Regions from separate parts of the Homo sapiens genome. Here region 2 is linked to region 1. The links come from fine-mapping of genetic effects on gene expression. Tissue or cell type: tibial artery. Region 1 holds a variant in brackets; the other region holds the start of a gene. All regions are shown on one strand. Distances are between the middles of the regions.

What was found. PIP is the estimated chance that this variant, and not a neighbour inherited with it, causes the effect.
Region 2: it holds the start of ATP2A2, and the variant in region 1 is fine-mapped to the expression of ATP2A2 in tibial artery (GTEx, PIP 0.91).

What each region holds. Positions count from the first base shown.
Region 1 is chr12:109,792,942-109,801,031 of GRCh38, forward strand. TRPV4 (transient receptor potential cation channel subfamily V member 4) reads right to left here. Exons shown (of 16, transcript NM_021625.5): 5 at 7,677-7,817; 6 at 5,673-5,971; 7 at 3,584-3,763; 8 at 1,388-1,546; 9 at 989-1,081; 10 at 586-659. Among named protein-coding and RNA genes, the nearest start is that of FAM222A-AS1, 24 kb to the left of the region's middle. The variant G/A (reference allele first, on the strand shown) is at 3,773.
Region 2 is chr12:110,278,018-110,286,118 of GRCh38, forward strand. ATP2A2 (ATPase sarcoplasmic/endoplasmic reticulum Ca2+ transporting 2) reads left to right here and starts at 3,230. Exons shown (of 20, transcript NM_170665.4): 1 at 3,230-3,890; 2 at 4,587-4,604; 3 at 4,696-4,778. The coding sequence starts at 3,773. RefSeq lists enhancers at 2,738-2,807, 3,925-4,679 and silencers at 2,898-3,497, 3,588-4,097.

The DNA of each region.
Region 1 (8,090 bases):
GAAAAGAAACAAAGTGGATTAGCAGGGTTCCCCAGCATTCTGTTAACAAGAACATTCAATTAGCTGGCAATTAATCCTGAGGTCCCACAGGATCCTGAAGTGATGCCCCTTGGAATTGCTAAAGAAAGATTTAGTGGTGTTCAGTGGAGATTTTGTGGCTAAGTGAATTTCATCATTCTCCAACTCTAAGGGAAATGTGAAAGAGGTAACACACACTCAGTAACTCTCTCATTCTCTGTCCCAGGCAGACATCATTAATCAATCCCAACTCTTTCCCACTAAACACAGACACAGGTGCAAAATTCTTAACATGGCACTTCAGGCAGACATTAGCAATCATTCACCAGCATAAGAGGTTAAAATTATTTCTATCCATGTTGTATATGATAACTCCCTAGCAATCAGAATTTTTCTTGAACCAGAAGACCCTATTGTTTGTGGCTTTGTCCTGACTTTGGGTTAGAGCTGCCCAGGTTGGGTGCATTCATTTCTAACAGAATCACCTCTCTCCTGAATCTGGACGACCTAGCAGCCCAAACCCACCTTCCTCACCCAGAAGCTGCCGGCCCAGGGACCTCTACTCACTAGAGCAGCTGGAAGGAGCCATCAATGAAGAGAGAATTCACTCCAGGGCATTTCTTCATGAACAAGTCTTTGATCTGGAAGACAGGAGGGGGCACGTGAAAGGGGTGGGGCCAGCAGGAGAGGAGAGGAGGAGAGAGGAGACAGAGAAAGGGATAGAAGAGAGGGAGGCAGAGGCTGGTACAGAGAAAAGACAAAGGACTCTTTCCTGTTAGAAAAGGAGAAAAAAGCAGAGATGGAGAACGTGGGATTGGAGGAGGTAGAAGAGAAATGGGAAAATAAAAGGAGGAAGGAAAGGAGAAGGACCATTTGGAGGAGAGAGAAGAGAAAAAGAGGGAGAGAAAAGAGGTGCAGGAAGAGAAGAGGAGGGCAGGCAGGGTGGGGGGCACGGGGGCCAGGCACTTACGTTGGTGAAGAAGAACAGGACCCCAGTGAAGAGCGTAATGACCTCGCCAGCCAGCCGCAGGTAGTCCACCGTGGTGCGGTAAGGGTACGGCGGCTGGGGAGCAGCAAGGGCACACAGGTCGTCACCCAGCCCCTCCAACATCTGGCCCCCAATCCAGATGTTCCCCCAGGCCCGAAACATCGGCATCCCATGGAGCCTCCTCCTTCACTCTCTTCCTCCTGAGTCTTCCTCCTCCCAGCTCAGGGCCACCCGTGGATGCTGGAGGGCGCCTCCCCAACCTGTTCCTAAACCTTCTCCGGGTCCCCCTACAGGGGACCCAGAAGGATGAGGTTGTGCCCCAGTCCTGCATGGCTCAGCCCAGTGCCTGCCCCAGCCCCTGCCCGGTCCCCGGGCACTCACTGTGCCCTCCAGCGGCTGGTAGTAGGCGGTGAGAGTGAAGATGACCATGGCACACAGGTAGGAGACCACGTTGATGTAGAAGGAGACGGCCCCGAACTTGCGCCACTTGTCCCGCAGCAGTTCATTGATGGGCTCCACAGCCAGCATCTCGTGGCGGTTCTAAGAGAGGCAGGGTGGTCGGGGGCTGCCTTCCTGAGATGGGTGGGGGGTCCAGGCAGGCTGCCTCGGGTGTGCCTTCCCCCACCCTCCACCCGGACAGCGCTTTCTCTTTCCATCCATTCCTCAGCTGCATTCACGGATTCATGAATGGATTCAGCTGCCCAATTCTGCCTCAATGTACCTTTCCACCCTATTCTAGCATCACAGAACTCGGAACTGGAAAGTCCCTTAAAAGACATTTATTTTCAGGCCGGCCGCAGTGGCTCATGCCTGTAATCCTAGCACTTTGGGAGGCCAAGACAGGCGGATCACCTAAGGTCAGCAGTTCAAGATCAGCCTGGCCAATGTGGTGAAACCCTGTCTCCACTAAAAACACAACAATTAGCCGGGCGTGGTGGTGCACACCTGTAATCCCAGCTACTCCTAAGGCTGAGGCAGGAGAATCACTTGAACCTGGGAGGCGGAGATTGCAGTGAGCCTAGATCGCACTACTGCACTCCAGCCTGGGCAACAAGAGTGAGACTCCATCTCAAAAAAGAAAAAAAGACATTTATTCTCATGGTTCCCAAACTCCAATCTGTGGATAGTACCAAGCTGCTGGCCGCAAAATAATTTATGTAACTTGCTGCAAGTATAAATCCTGGCCTCCGCTCTCAGAAATTCTGATTCAGAGAGAAAGATTGAGAAATTTTGCCCAAAGATGATAAATGATTGACTCACCACAATTCTCCAATTCTGAACCCAGGGCAGACATCAATAATTGAGCCCTGCACAATTGTATTCATACAGTTCCCTGGGTAGACACTACTAATCAATCAGTTTGCACCTGAGATGCTAAACCTCCTGCCACCACTAATTTAAATCAAGATGGTCACTAATTCAAAAAATGAGGGAAATGAGGTCTTGCAAGGAAGCCAAGCTCACAGACCAGTAAGCCACAGGGCAGGGCTAGAAGGAAGACCACCTGCACCCAGTCCCCAGCATTTTCTGCTCCATTTTTATAGCTTCCTAGCCCTTTATTAACTTGAGTTTCTCTATAATCATGATTTGTGCAATAAAGCAGCCACAGAGATGCTCTTATAGTGTTATTCCTGATAAAGGCAGAAACAAACCCAAGCGACCAGCAATAAGAGAACAGTTCATTTGAATATGGTATGTTTACATGCAGCGACAATATTACCAAAGAATATTTAAAAGTACAGAACGACGTTCACAAAATACTGCTAAGTAGGGAAAAAAAAGCTTGGTTTTTTGTTTGTTTGTTTGTTTGTTTATTTTGAGACAGGATCTCACTCTGTCACCCAGGCTGGAGTGCAGTGGCATGATCTCGGCTCACTGAAGCCTCGACCTCCCCAGGCTCAGGTGATCCTCCCACCTCGCCTCCCAAGTAGCTGGGACTACAGGCTCGCACCACCATGCCTAGCTAATTTTCATTTTTATTATTTTTTTTTGGTAGAGACGGGGTTTCGCCATATTGCCCAGGCTAGTCTCAAACTCCTGGCTTCAAGCAATCCGCCCACCTTGGCTCCCCAAAATGCTAGAATTACAGGCATAAGCCACCATGCCTGACCGAAAAAAAAGAGCTTTCAAAAGTTCATATAACAACCATGAGTAGTAAAAGCTGACATAATGTTTACTCTGTGCCAAGCCATTCTAAAATTAACCTCTTTGGTCCTCCCAAGAACCCCATGGGATATCCATGATCCTTATCCCCAGGTTACAAATGAAGAAGCTGAGACCCAGAGAGGTGGAGCCACTTGTCCTGAGACACACAGCATGTAAGTTACAGAGCCAGGATCCCAACCCAGTCCTACCTGCCCCAAAAGTCCATCTTCCCACAAGTCTTGCTCATTTCCTCACATGGCAGACACTGTTCTGGGCACTTAGTTGGCACCTTCTCTTGCATTCAGCCAACAGACCCACCACGTTGGGTCCTAGAGGCTGGGGCTGTCTCCCCCAGCCCAGCCCCAGGGCCCTGTCCCTACTCCCAGCCCTGCCCCTCCTTCCTCACACCCCATGCCCCCTCCTGGAGCCCACCTCAATCTTGCTGTTGTACACCAGGATCTCCAGCACGGAGGCCTCTTCCCCACACGTGTCCAGGGAGGAGAGGTCATAAAGCGAGGAATACACTGGCCCATAGGCCCAGTCCTTGAACTTGCGGGACAGGTGCCGTGTGTCCTCATCCGTCACCTCCCGCCGGATGATGTGCTGAAAGATCTGCACAGG[G/A]GGCCAGGAGGGTCAGGGGGCTCACACTGGAAAGACCCCCAGGGCTGGGCCCAGCTCAGCACATGACGCCTCCCCAGAAAACAGCTAAGCACCGGCTGCTGGAGGACCCTTTCCTCATCTTGTTTAATTCTTGCTCTTATTATCTTGGTTTACAGATAAAGAATGGAGGCTGGGAAAAACGAAGGGTGTTCCAGAAGCCACTTAACCAGTCAGCTGGAGCCAGACAGAACCTGGATGAGCCTTCAACATCTTAATTGTAATGAATATCTTCTTCATGCCGTTAAAATAGCAATGAATCCATCTTAATGACATGTGAATTATAATACTGACGATCACATGCGGTCCTTCCTGTTACCACTCCTCCTTCCCTGGCTTACACACAGGGAAGCGGAGGCACAGAGAGGGGTGGGAATTGCCCAAGGTCAGGCAATGTTAGGATTTTGGGGTTTTTGTTTTGAGACAGAGTCTCTCTCTGTCACCCAGGCTGGAGTGCAGTGGCGCGATCTCAGCACACTGCAACCCTCTCCTCCTAGGTTCAAGCAATTCTCCTGCCTCAGCCTCCTGAGTAGCTGGGATTACAGGTGCCCACTATCACACCCAGCTAATATTTTTGTATTTTTAGTAGAGACGGGGTTTCACCATGTTGGCCAGGCTGGTCTTGAACTCCTGACCTCAGGTGATCCGCCCACCTCGGCCTCCCAAAGTGCTGGGATTACAGGCATGAGCCACTGTGCACAGCCAGGATTTTGGGGTTTTTTGAGACAGGGTCTGGCTCTGTTGCCCAGGCTGGAGTGCAATGGCACTATCACAGCTCATTGCAGCCTCAACCTCCTGGGCTCAAGTGCTCCTCCCACCTCAGCCTCCCAAAGTGCTAGGATTACAGACACGAGCCACTGAGCCTAGCCAAAGCCAGGATTTAAACTGGAGCCTTTCTACTGCCTCAGGGCCATGGTATAATTGCAATTTTAGTAATTTTTGCTACATTTTTTTTTATTTTGGTTTTTATTTATTTGGGATCTCAAATAATCCAGGCTGGACTTAAACGATCCTCTCACCTCAGCCTCCCAACTAGCTGGCATTACAGACATGTAAGTGACACTTACTGCTTCTCCCAGGCTCCTTCCTAAGAGCCTTATGTGGATCACCGCATTTGTCACAACACCACACCAGAGGACACTCTTATATCCCCATTTTACAGACAAGGAAACTGAGGCACAGAAAAGGGAAATGAGATGTCTGAGGTCACACACTGGGAAGTGGTAGCGCCAGGGCTTGGACAGGTGCTCCTGCCTCTAGCATACTCCAGACTTGGTTCCCAATCCAGCGATGGTGCCCCCCAGAGGACAATTCAGCAATGTTCTGGAGATATTTTTGGTGGTCACAAGTGTAAGGGGAGGTGTTCCTGGCATCTGGTGGGTAGAGGCCCGGGATGCAGATCAATGTCTGGCAATAGCACAAGACGGTCCCCACCACAAAGAGCCTGCCGCCCAAAATAATCATGCTGAAGTTGAGAAACCCTTCTCCAGGCCCCATGCTGCGCGGCCCAGAAAAGGGAAGGAACTGGGGCAGGGCCATTCAACAGGTTTGAGGCTGGGAGCACCGCTGGGCTAGGGCCCGGGGACTCAGTTTCTTATCAGTGGCTCATCCTGGCTGGTGGGGGTGGAGTGGTGAACATCCAGTAGGGTGACATGAGGCGAGAGGCTCGGGGATGAAGCTAAGGAGCTTGGCTGGACACTAGGGAGCCATAGCAGGTTCTTGAGCTGGGACATCTGCACACTGGGGTTGGCATGTTGGGAGGTGCATGCACGTATTAATAATGAATACCAGCAGCAGACCCTCGTGTGTGTGTGCAGAGGGGTACGAGTAGGTGGATCAGCTGTGCCCCCAGCCGCACACTCACCCCAATCTTGCCCGTCTTGGCAGCCATCATGAGGGGCGAGAGGCCGTCGTTGTTGAGCACGGCCTCCAGGTTGCTGTCGGGGAAGAGGCGGGCACACTTGAGCAGCAGCAGGTCGTACATCTTGGTAACAAACTTGGTGTTCTCACGGGTGTTGTCAGCAATGGCCACCAGCGCATGCAGCACTGTGTTGCCTCGCGAGTCCTGGCGCCGCATGTCCGCCTTCTTGTGGGGGTTCTCCGTCAGGTAGTTGACAATGTGGGGCTGGTTGGTGCAGGCAGCCAGCGACAGGGGCAGCTCCCCTGCGGGCCAGGGTGAAGGGTGGGAGGTCAGCGAAGGGGGCCCAGGGTGGGACTCTGCCTGCAGACACTCGGGGGACGGACACCGTGGCGCTCTGAGGATAATGACGGAGACAGCACCAGCAGTGGATATGAACTGCACGTTTCTCTGGGTGATGCCAGGGAGATGGGGTGTGGCTAGTTAAGGGCACAGCCACGCGATTTGGAGGCTGTGAGGGACTGGACACATCCAATGATGGAATTCTTTTTTTTTTTTTTTTTGAGACAAAGTCTCACTCTGTCGCCTAGGCTGGAGTGCAGTGGCACAATCTCGGCTCATTGCAACCTCCACCTCCCGGGTGCAAGCAGTTCTTGTGCCTCAGCCGAGTAGCTGGGATTACAGGCGCACGCCACCACACCTGGCTAATTTTTGTATTTTTAGTAGAGGCAGGATTTCGCCATGTTGGCCAGGCTGGTCTCAAACTCCTGACCTCAAGTGATCCGCCGACCTCGGCCTCCCAAAGTGCTGGGATTACAGGCGTGAGCCACCGCGCCCAGCTGATGATGGAATTCTTTGTGTGACTTTGTCCCTGAGCTGCACATAATGAATGCCTTTAAGCAGGGGCAAAATTCAAAATATTTCATGAGTCCAGTGATGACAACGGCAGTGGTGGGCTTTGGGCCTGGTGATGGGGCTGTTGGTCCCAGCATAAACCAGATTAAAGCACACAGACAATACAGAGCTGGGCGCTGACATCACAGCCCAAGGGCCTCTCGTGATCCCCACTGCACAGCTGGGGAAGGTGAGGCTCAGGGAAGTGAGGTCACATGCCTGGAAAGTGCAGAGTGAGGATTTGGCTTTTTTTTTGTTCTTTTCTTTTTGCTTTTTAAAGACGGGGTCTTGCTCTATTTTCCAGGCTGGAGTGCAGTGGTGCAATCATGGCTTACTGCAGCCTCGAACTCCTAGGTTCAAGTGATCCTCCAGCCTCGGCCTCCCAAGCAGCTGGGACTTCAAGCACATGCCACCATGCCATCTAACTTATTTATTTATTTATTTATTTATTTATTTTTTGAGACAGAGTCTCACTCTGTCACCCAAGCTGGAGTGCAATGGGGAAATCTCGGCTCATTGCAACCTCTGTCCCCCAGGTTCAAGCAATTCTCCTGCCTCAGCCTCCCAAGTAGCTGGGATTACAGGCACCCACCACCATGCCCGGCTAATTTTTGTTATTTTTGTAGAGATGGGTTTCACCATCTTGTTGGCCAGGCTGGTCTTGAACTCTTGACCTCAGGTGATCCACCTGCCTCATCCTCCCAAAGTGCTGGGATTACAGGCATGAGCCACCGTGCCCAGCCATTTTTTAAATGTTTAAAAGAGACAGGGTATTGCTATGTTGCCTAGGCTGGTCTCAAACTCCTGCCCTCAAGCGATCCTCCTGCCTTGACCTCCCAAAGTGCTGGGATGACAGGTGTGAGACACCGTGCCTGGCTGGAGTGAGGATCTGAATCCAGGTCCATGGTACTCCCCATGGCACTTACACCTCAGAGGCAACGGCCCTGTGACCAAGACCAACGTGCAGCCTGTGGTCCAGAGTGCTGCCTGCGCTCATGGCCAGAGTGGCCCTGGGTGTCTGGGTGATGGTCAGGGCTGCAGACACCAACCAGTATCATGCTATCTCCCGCCATGCTTCTCCAGCATGCTGTCAGCCCCCACCAGGCCCCTCCTTACCAAAGTAGAAGTAGCCCCCCTCATCCTTGGGCTGGAAGAAGCGCCCACGGGCCTGGGCGTGGACATCAGCTCCCTGGGCCACGAGAAGTTCCACGTAGTGTTTGCAGCGACGCTCAATGGCGATGTGCAGGGCTGTCTGACCTGGGGGCAGGGGACGGTCATCCAGGGTCCTGGCGGAGCAGAGACCTAGCCAGGCTTGCTGGGGGTGGGGGTAGGGTGCAGGACGTAGAAATTGGGGGGTGGGGGATGCAGGCAGAGTCCTGCCCAGCGACACCCAAGGGCAGCAAATAGGTCCTTGGATATTCCCTGGGATCCATCGCAGAAGCAGAATCTCAAGCCTGAAGGATACCTAGTTTGTGGAATCCTGAATGTGAGAAGTTTTTAGATTCATAAGATGCTTTAAAAATCCTAGAG
Region 2 (8,101 bases), 490 kb after region 1:
AAGCAAGTACAACACGATGCATAAAATAAATTAAGCACAAGTTTATTTCTACATGAGAGAAACTAGATATTTCTGCCTTTGGGAGACTGCGTTTCTGATAAATTTTGGCAACCCATCAACAACAGCTTTCAGAGACACCAGCAGGTTGAGGAACCAAGAGCATAATTGTTATGATGATGTCTAAGGGGGCCAATTCTGGGCTTAAAATCACACTGTTTCAGCTTAAGAGAGTATTCCAGCCTCCAGTAAATAGAAAGCTTGCAGAGAACAGTCTAGGAGGGCAATGGCAACGTGGTAACAGTACCAATGTGAACTTGAACCTTCCTTCTTTCTGAGAAACCTGTAATGCTGTCTAGCTTTGTTTTTGTCTGTTTGTTTTAAACTGACTACACTTCACAGTCATTCTCATGAGGCAGGTAGTTCAGAGAGGCCCTCTAGTTTATTTCACAAATTGGAAATCAATGAACTTGAGTTCACTGAAAATTTGCTGAGGCCTTCCTATGGGGGAGGCCCTTTGCAAGTCACTTATGGGCTAGGGATGGTGGGACTAATTCATTCATTCAAACAGCAGGCATTTAATAAATGAGGAGCATAGACTAGGGACTGTTCTTTGTACTGAGGATGGACAAGATGGACAGGCCCTGTTCTTATGGAGCTTCTGTCCTAGAGCTCCATGAGACACTAGGAGACAAGCAGTTAACAGCTAAACCAAAATACAACATCACAAGTAAGCACTGTGAAGAAAACTGACCGGGCACGGTGGCTCATGCCTGTAATCCCAGCACTTTGGGAGGCCGAGGCAGGCAGATTACCTGAGGTCAGTTCGAAGCCAGCCTGGCCAACATGGTGAAACCCCATCTCTACTAAAAATACAAAAATGAGGCAGGCATGGTGGCGTGCACCTGTAGTCCCAGCTACTTGGGAGGCGGAGGCACAAGAACTGCTTGAACCCAGGAGGCCGAGGTTGTGGTGAGCTGGGATTGTGCTGCTGTCCTCCAGCCTGGGTGACAGAGAGAGACTCTGTCTCAAAGGAAAAAAAAGAAGAAAAGAAAACTGAAAAATGTGATGGAAGGTGAATTGCCGAGAGTAGCCACTTTTTAATTTATTTATTATTTAATTTTTTTTTTGAGACAAGGTCTCACTCTGTTGTTGCTCAGGCTGGAGTGCAGTGGCGTGATCACAGATCACTGCAGTCTTGACCTCCTGGGTTCAAGCGATCCTCTCTCTTTAGCCTCCTGAGTAGCTGGGACTAAAGGTTCAGGCCACCACGCCCAGCTAATTTTTTTCTTTTTTTTTTTTAGTAGAGATGGAGTCTCGCTATATTGCCCAGGCTGGTCTCAAACTCCTGGGCTCAAGGGATCCTCCTGCCTCAGCCTCCCAAAATGCTGGGATTACAGACGTGAGCCACTGTGGCTGGGTAGCCACTTTAGACAGCAAAGACATCTCTGAGGAGGGGACATGTAAGCTGCGATCTGAATGGAAAGAGAACGACACAAGTGAAGAAGATCTGTGGGAAGAGCATTCCATACAAAGGCTGAGGTCAGGAACTCCTCCAGAAGCTCATAATTGCACCAGAGGTGCTTACAACCCCAAGCAGTGACAGTGGCACAGAATATTCAACATCAAATGCCTAAGCTAATTTCCAGGCTGAGAAAGGTAAACCATCCTTCTCCTGCCTGCAGTGCTTCTATCGGTCCTGAAAGAGACAGAGGAGGTAAGGGAGAAGAATTGGTACGAAATGGTGCAGAGCTGGTCTCAGAGGGCAACAACAGCCAGCCCTCCATGACCACACTCCCACCGTGCACTCACGTGCCCCTCTTGAAGCGGCTCTGATCCTGTGACCTAACCAGTTTCCACCTGGCTTCTCTCAGTGCGTTGCCATATAGTATAATTTTTTGTTTGTTTGTTTCGTGTAGGGTTTTGTTGGTTCTTTTCCAAGTATCAATCAAAACTACATGCCAACGTCCACTCCTTGGAAATAATTAAATGACATGACGTGCCTGATTTTTTCAGCTGGTGATGCACTGTAATTTGCATCTGCTGAAGGAATTTATCTTAAGTCCTGAAGCCCAGCCACTTGAGACAACTGAGGTGATTTTTCTGCTCTGCTTTTGCTCATGCGGATGGTGCGTTATTGTTAAACACAAAAGTGGACTAATTGCTTCATTCTGCAACCTACTCCGTGAAGAAAGCTGCTCTTCTTTGTGAAGAGAATATGTTCATGTTTTGTTCATGAATTCCATGCAATTTCCCATCCCCTTGTTAAGTAATGTAGCTTCTTTATATTGGCAAAATTCCCTTTATCTTGCTGTGACCTGCGCTTTGTCCTCCCGAGCAGAGCAAATCATCTGTGGTTTAAGAGCAGCTTTGGATTCAAGTCCCCTTTTCTCCTGTCGAGGGAAGTGAGTCTATGAAATGGCCTTCATCTGAAAGCCACAGCGAAGCACCTCCTAGCCCAAGTCTAGCTGCTGTGTGGCAGCTCCAGCGGCGTGAACTGTGACTGCCCTGCAGACACCTATCAAGCGCTGCGTCAGCTATTAATAATAAAATCAACTCTTCTCCCTCCCCCCCGCGAGGGGGGTTCCCTCGTCAGGGCCCAGAACCCGCTGGGGAAGAATCGGGGCTGGCGTGCGAAGGAGCTGGCGGCAGGGGGTGTAGGATGCGGTGTTCCCGAGGCGACAGATGAAGGATTTGGGTTGTGTGGGAAGTGAACTGCGGAATTCCTCCCCTTGGTTTCTGAGGGGGGCTCTGAAGGAGCCAGATTAGGATGCAGAGCGCAGCCCGGGCGACCGAGGGCGAGGAGGCGAGCCAAGGACATCAGCCCGAGGGCGCCTCGAGACGCCCCGCGTGGACCGCGCTCCCAGCTCCTCGGCCTCGCCTTCCAACCATCCGCCCACCGGCCCCAGAGCAGCGTGCCCACTGTGAGCGCCCCACCCTGCGTCTGCAGGTGGGTGGGTCAGAGAACCGCAGGCACAGAAGAGGGTACCCAGCTTCCCCTCCGCCAGCCCCGCGACCGCGGCGCGCGCGGCCTCGATCCGGGTTCCTAGGGGCGGCGCGCGGGAGGGGGCGGGGCCTGCGCGGCAGCGTGGGCGCCAGGCGCGCGGGAGGAGGGAGCCGGGAGGAGGGGGCGGGGCCGCGCCGCCCGCGCCGCGCTGGGCGCTCTCGGCCAATGAGCGGCGTCCACATGCCGCGGCGGCGGCGAAAGGGGAGGCAGCGGCCGATAAATGCTATTAGAGCAGCCGCCGCGGAGCCGTCCCCGACGCCACCTCCTTTTCCTTCGCCGCAGTTTCCTCCGCCGCTGTCGGGCGTGCGGCGCTGAGGGACCCGGGCGAGCGCGCCGCGCACCGCCCCGCCGGCTCGCCTCCCTCGCCGCGTTCCGCCCTCAGTGGTCTGCCGGGCGCCCCCTCCTCCGGCCCGGGCGGGGCCTCTGATCGCCTCAAGAGAGCGGGGAGGGGGCTCGGGGGCCGCGGCCTGCCCTCCCGGCGGGCGGCTGAGGGCGAGGGAGGCCCTCCCTTCTGGCGAGGGGAGGGAGGGTGGGTCAGGAGCCCCCAACCCGCCCTGCGGAGCTCGGGGCCGCGCGAGGGGCGGTTGTCTGGGGGAGGGGGCGCGGGGTGATTCAGCGCCCGGCGAGGCGGAAGCGGCCGCAAGAGGAGGAGGGGAGAGCCCGTCCGCGCCTGGGCTCCCGGGGTGGCACGAGCCCGCGGCCGGAGTGCGAGGCGGAGGCGAGGAGGCCGCGGGGACGGGAGGCGAGGCCGGCCGGGCCCCCGAAGCCATGGAGAACGCGCACACCAAGACGGTGGAGGAGGTGCTGGGCCACTTCGGCGTCAACGAGAGTACGGGGCTGAGCCTGGAACAGGTCAAGAAGCTTAAGGAGAGATGGGGCTCCAACGGTAGGTGCAGGGCGCTCCGCTGCAGGGGCCCGGCGCGGCCGGGAGAGCCAGGGAAGATGGCTGACCGGGCTCCACCTCGTGGGCTTCGGCTCCGCGCCCGCCGACAGCTGCGGGCGGAGGGTCGGGCCAGCGCGCCGGCCCCGCGGGAGAGAAAGGGGCTGCGGTCCTCGCCTCGCCTTCCCTGGACCTCTTCGCTTCTCGGGCCCTCGACCTTTTCGGCGCGCAAGGCTCGGAGGCTTCTCTCCAGCAGCAGCCGGCCCCGGTGGAGGGAGGGACGTGGCTTCTGCAGCTAGGTTGAGCCCGGCAAGACGTTTTCTCGTCCCCTGCCGATTTATGAGGAGTCGAGGTCGTTGGAAGGCCTCTGACCGTTCTTGTCCTACCCAAAGTTACACATCTGGCAGAAGTGATGACATCGCTGAAACCACTCCTAGGTTCAGGAGCCCGAAGTGATTTCACGCTTAGGGCTAGACCTCAGGCCATTGATTACAAAGAGTGCATGCTTCCTTGAGATATCTTCGTGGTATGCCCTCTGCTAAAAAAATCGGATATTCTTATAGCTAGGTCTGTGTTTTAAAGATATTGATGCTTAGAATTGTAGCAGTTCTTTTTAGAAAAACGAAGTGCTAAAATGTCTCTCTCTTTTTTTTTTTAACCTCCCTCTTGACACATTGCTTGACGAATTTCTACATTCTACAGAGTTACCGGCTGAAGAAGGTAATCTTAACATGCTGTTTCTGTTTTTTTTCCTCTGTTGGTGTGCTGATGGTAAGATGACAGTTAAAACACATGTGTTTGTTTCTTACAGGAAAAACCTTGCTGGAACTTGTGATTGAGCAGTTTGAAGACTTGCTAGTTAGGATTTTATTACTGGCAGCATGTATATCTTTTGTAAGTATAAAAAAATTTATTTTCTTTCCCCCCAAAAGCTGAAAGTATTCCATAGATAAATCAGAAAACAAATGATGTCCATTGGGTGAAAACATATTTGGAGTTGCAAGCTGTGTCTCTATGTTTAAAAACAATCTGGGCATTTTAAAATTACAAAACAAAACACTTGAAGCCATTGGTATTCAGAAAATAGATGCCTGACATTTACAGTGTGGTTAGGAGTTGTCCCAGAGTGTGGCATGGTCTTAGAAATTCTTGTGGTTTATCAGCTTTTAATATCAAAAAGTTCTTTTCTGGGAAGCCTTTAATGTTTTGGGTTCTTCCATTGTTATCGTGTTGTAAGATCATACTAAGATGATGTTGGACTCTTTGTAGTCTGTAAATAGAACTTACAAAAGGAATATTCCAGTTGCTTTCCCTTCCTGGTAATGGCAAGGTGACAGTTGTTCCTGACGGTGACAAGAATGATGACGGCTGTGATGGCACCCTTGTTGACCAAATTTGGTCACTGACCTTTAGGGTGGTATATTTATCTAAATTGGACCCCTGTCTTAAGTGATTCTTAGGTTGAAAGAACAAGGTTTAGTACAGTTGGTTCTAGATCTTAAAGGAAAAAAACCAGCATGGTGTTTTTTCTTGTTCTGTGTGTGCTTACCCACTTGAGTGCTATATGGTTGCTAAGAAACTAGTGAAATGCAAAGAACTACAGCAGAAAAAGGGTGTTGGGGTGGCAAGTATATTTCTAGGTTTTTAACTTTTTTTTAAATGTTCGGTATTAATTTTTTGTTGCATTTTTTTTCTTGGGCAGTAGATTGCTTGCTAGTTTTCCTAAAAATGGTCAGGAATAGGACACAGATGTTCCTAATTCTAATAGCATGAGATGCCTTTTATTCTTGAATTACGTTATTCTTACAAAAACCACGATAAGTGAAATTCACCCAGTGCAGTACTTCTTTCTAGTTAAAACAAAATTGACAAAACTTCACGGTTTCAGTTCTTGTACATATATGTATGCAGGTCCCAGGGATCAGCCTCAGTCTTTGTGAGAACCATACCATAGAGGGCTATTTTGAGAACGAAATAAACAAAGCAGTGGGCATTTATTTAGTTCAGATGAGGAAAAGATTAAATTTATACCCATCTTTTAAGTAGATAGTGGCAGCAGTAAATAAATTTGTGGAATAATTTTTACATAAATCCTGCTATGATACTTTATTATGCCATATTAGCCAAGTATTGTGTAGCCATTAATAATTCAGTCCCCAAGAACCTTTTCTGTGGTTTTCATTGATTAAAATGGGGACTTACATAGCAAACCATTCAGCATTCTGAGTCAGTCACAATGTACCTCTGATAAAATGTTTCTTCTTGATTGATTAAAAAATTTTCCCCCAGAAAATGGCTGCTGTTTTACCAATTAAGGGAAATGAGTAGACCCGATTAACTATAGTTTATCAATACATTGTCATGGGGCAAAATAAATGATACATTTGGAGCTAGTGTAAGATTTGTATTTAACTGGGTACATAATAGCGTTGGCAGTTAAATAATGGGGTCCGATAAGGTCATTGGGAACTTCTTAAAAATTAATCAGCTGACTACAAGCCAGAAGCAAAATACATTTTTACTGAATTCTCTGTGTTACAAGTTGAAGCAGTGTGGGAAACCATGCCACTGGTGTTACTATTGGGGTTGCACTGGGTCTGTTTTTTGAGTGGCCAGTTTGAGTGACTTTATATTAGCATTTTAAATTAATGATGTGTGTGGGTTTTGTTTGTTCATTTTTTACTTTGAAGTAATTAGAGGCTTATAGTTTGTAAGCATTTCAAGCAGGTTTTTAAATAAATGCTTTAATTTTTTTTATAAGATAGGACCTTGGCTTTGTGGAGCATTATAGAGCTATATTTTGGAGTTGAAATTTGAGCTCCTTTTTGGTAACTGTGGAGTTACTGCTCAGGAAATGAACTGTGTTACATTTTTATTTTATGAGTTGGTAAATAGCAAAAGAATAAGTGTTTAGGGAGTACTTCTATAGAATTAATTTGCTTTGGTTTGTTTGATCAAGGAATTGCAGATATAAGACCTGTTGTGTTGATTTTCTTCATGTGGGGTTGGGTACTGCTGCTGCATTGTCTTTAGTGTTTCATTCCTCCTGTCTGTATCTTTTAAAAGAAAGAGCACTGACTCTCTTTTTGTGTCAGTTTATTCCTATTGATGTAACAGAAAAAACATGGTAGAATATTCAGGTTTTTTTGGAGAAGTGACTAGGCGATTCTTATATACATCATGCGTCATCAAGTCATGCTTAAATTAAAAAGAATATTAGTGACTTACTTCAAATATCAAACTAAGTAGTAAACTGTTAACTATAGTTAATATTTTGCTGTGGCATAGAATAGGAAGCTATGCTTGTGACCTGTAGGGATCTAGTTTAATTTGTAATATTGGCCAAAGTGTTTTTTTGAAACGGTCACTTGGATTGAAAGAAATAAGCTTCATCTTCCAGTGCATATGAACATTAGAAATTGCTTAATTTGACACTGAAGACCCCCCCTCTATCATTCACTTTATCTTTTCATTCTCTTCTTGATTACCAACTTTGTTCTAAATGTAACACATCGTATGGTTGCTTAACTGATGCCTGCCCTTTCTTCTCTTTTCCTGCTTTGTTAAGATATTTATTGAGCACCTGTCACAGACACTGGGGATACAGTAGTGAATAAAACAGACAGAGACCCTTACCTGGAGGATAATACTGCTGAGAAAAATAAAGCAAGGGGGTTTGGATATCAGAGTATGTGAAAGGGGGAACAGTTTTCAAATTGGGTGGTCCGGAAAGTTCTTGAGGAAGGTGACATTTGCGAAAAGATCTGAAGGAGGTGGGCATTAGGGCCATGTTGGTCTCCCATCTGTCTAAATCATAAAGTCATAATTAATATGGTAATAATTTGCATAGGTTTCTCTACCTTCCACCGTCGTTTCCCATGTCAGCTACTTAGATTGACCCTAAAATGCTAATAAAACTTTCTAGACTGTGGTACTTCTCAACCTTTAGGTTACATTTGACCATTTGCATGTGTGTGTCTCTTTTCTTCCTACTAGACCCCCTTGAGTTAGTGCTTTTTTTTTTTTTTTTTTTTAAATGTAGATGGAGTCTCACTCTTGTTGCCCGGGCTGGAGCGCAGTGGTGCAATCTCGGCTCACTGCAACCTCCACCTCCTGGGTTCAAGTGATTCTCCTGCCTCAGCCTCCTGAGTAGCTGGGATTACAGATGTCCACCACCACGCCCGGCTAATTTTTGTATTTTTAGTAGAGATGGGGTT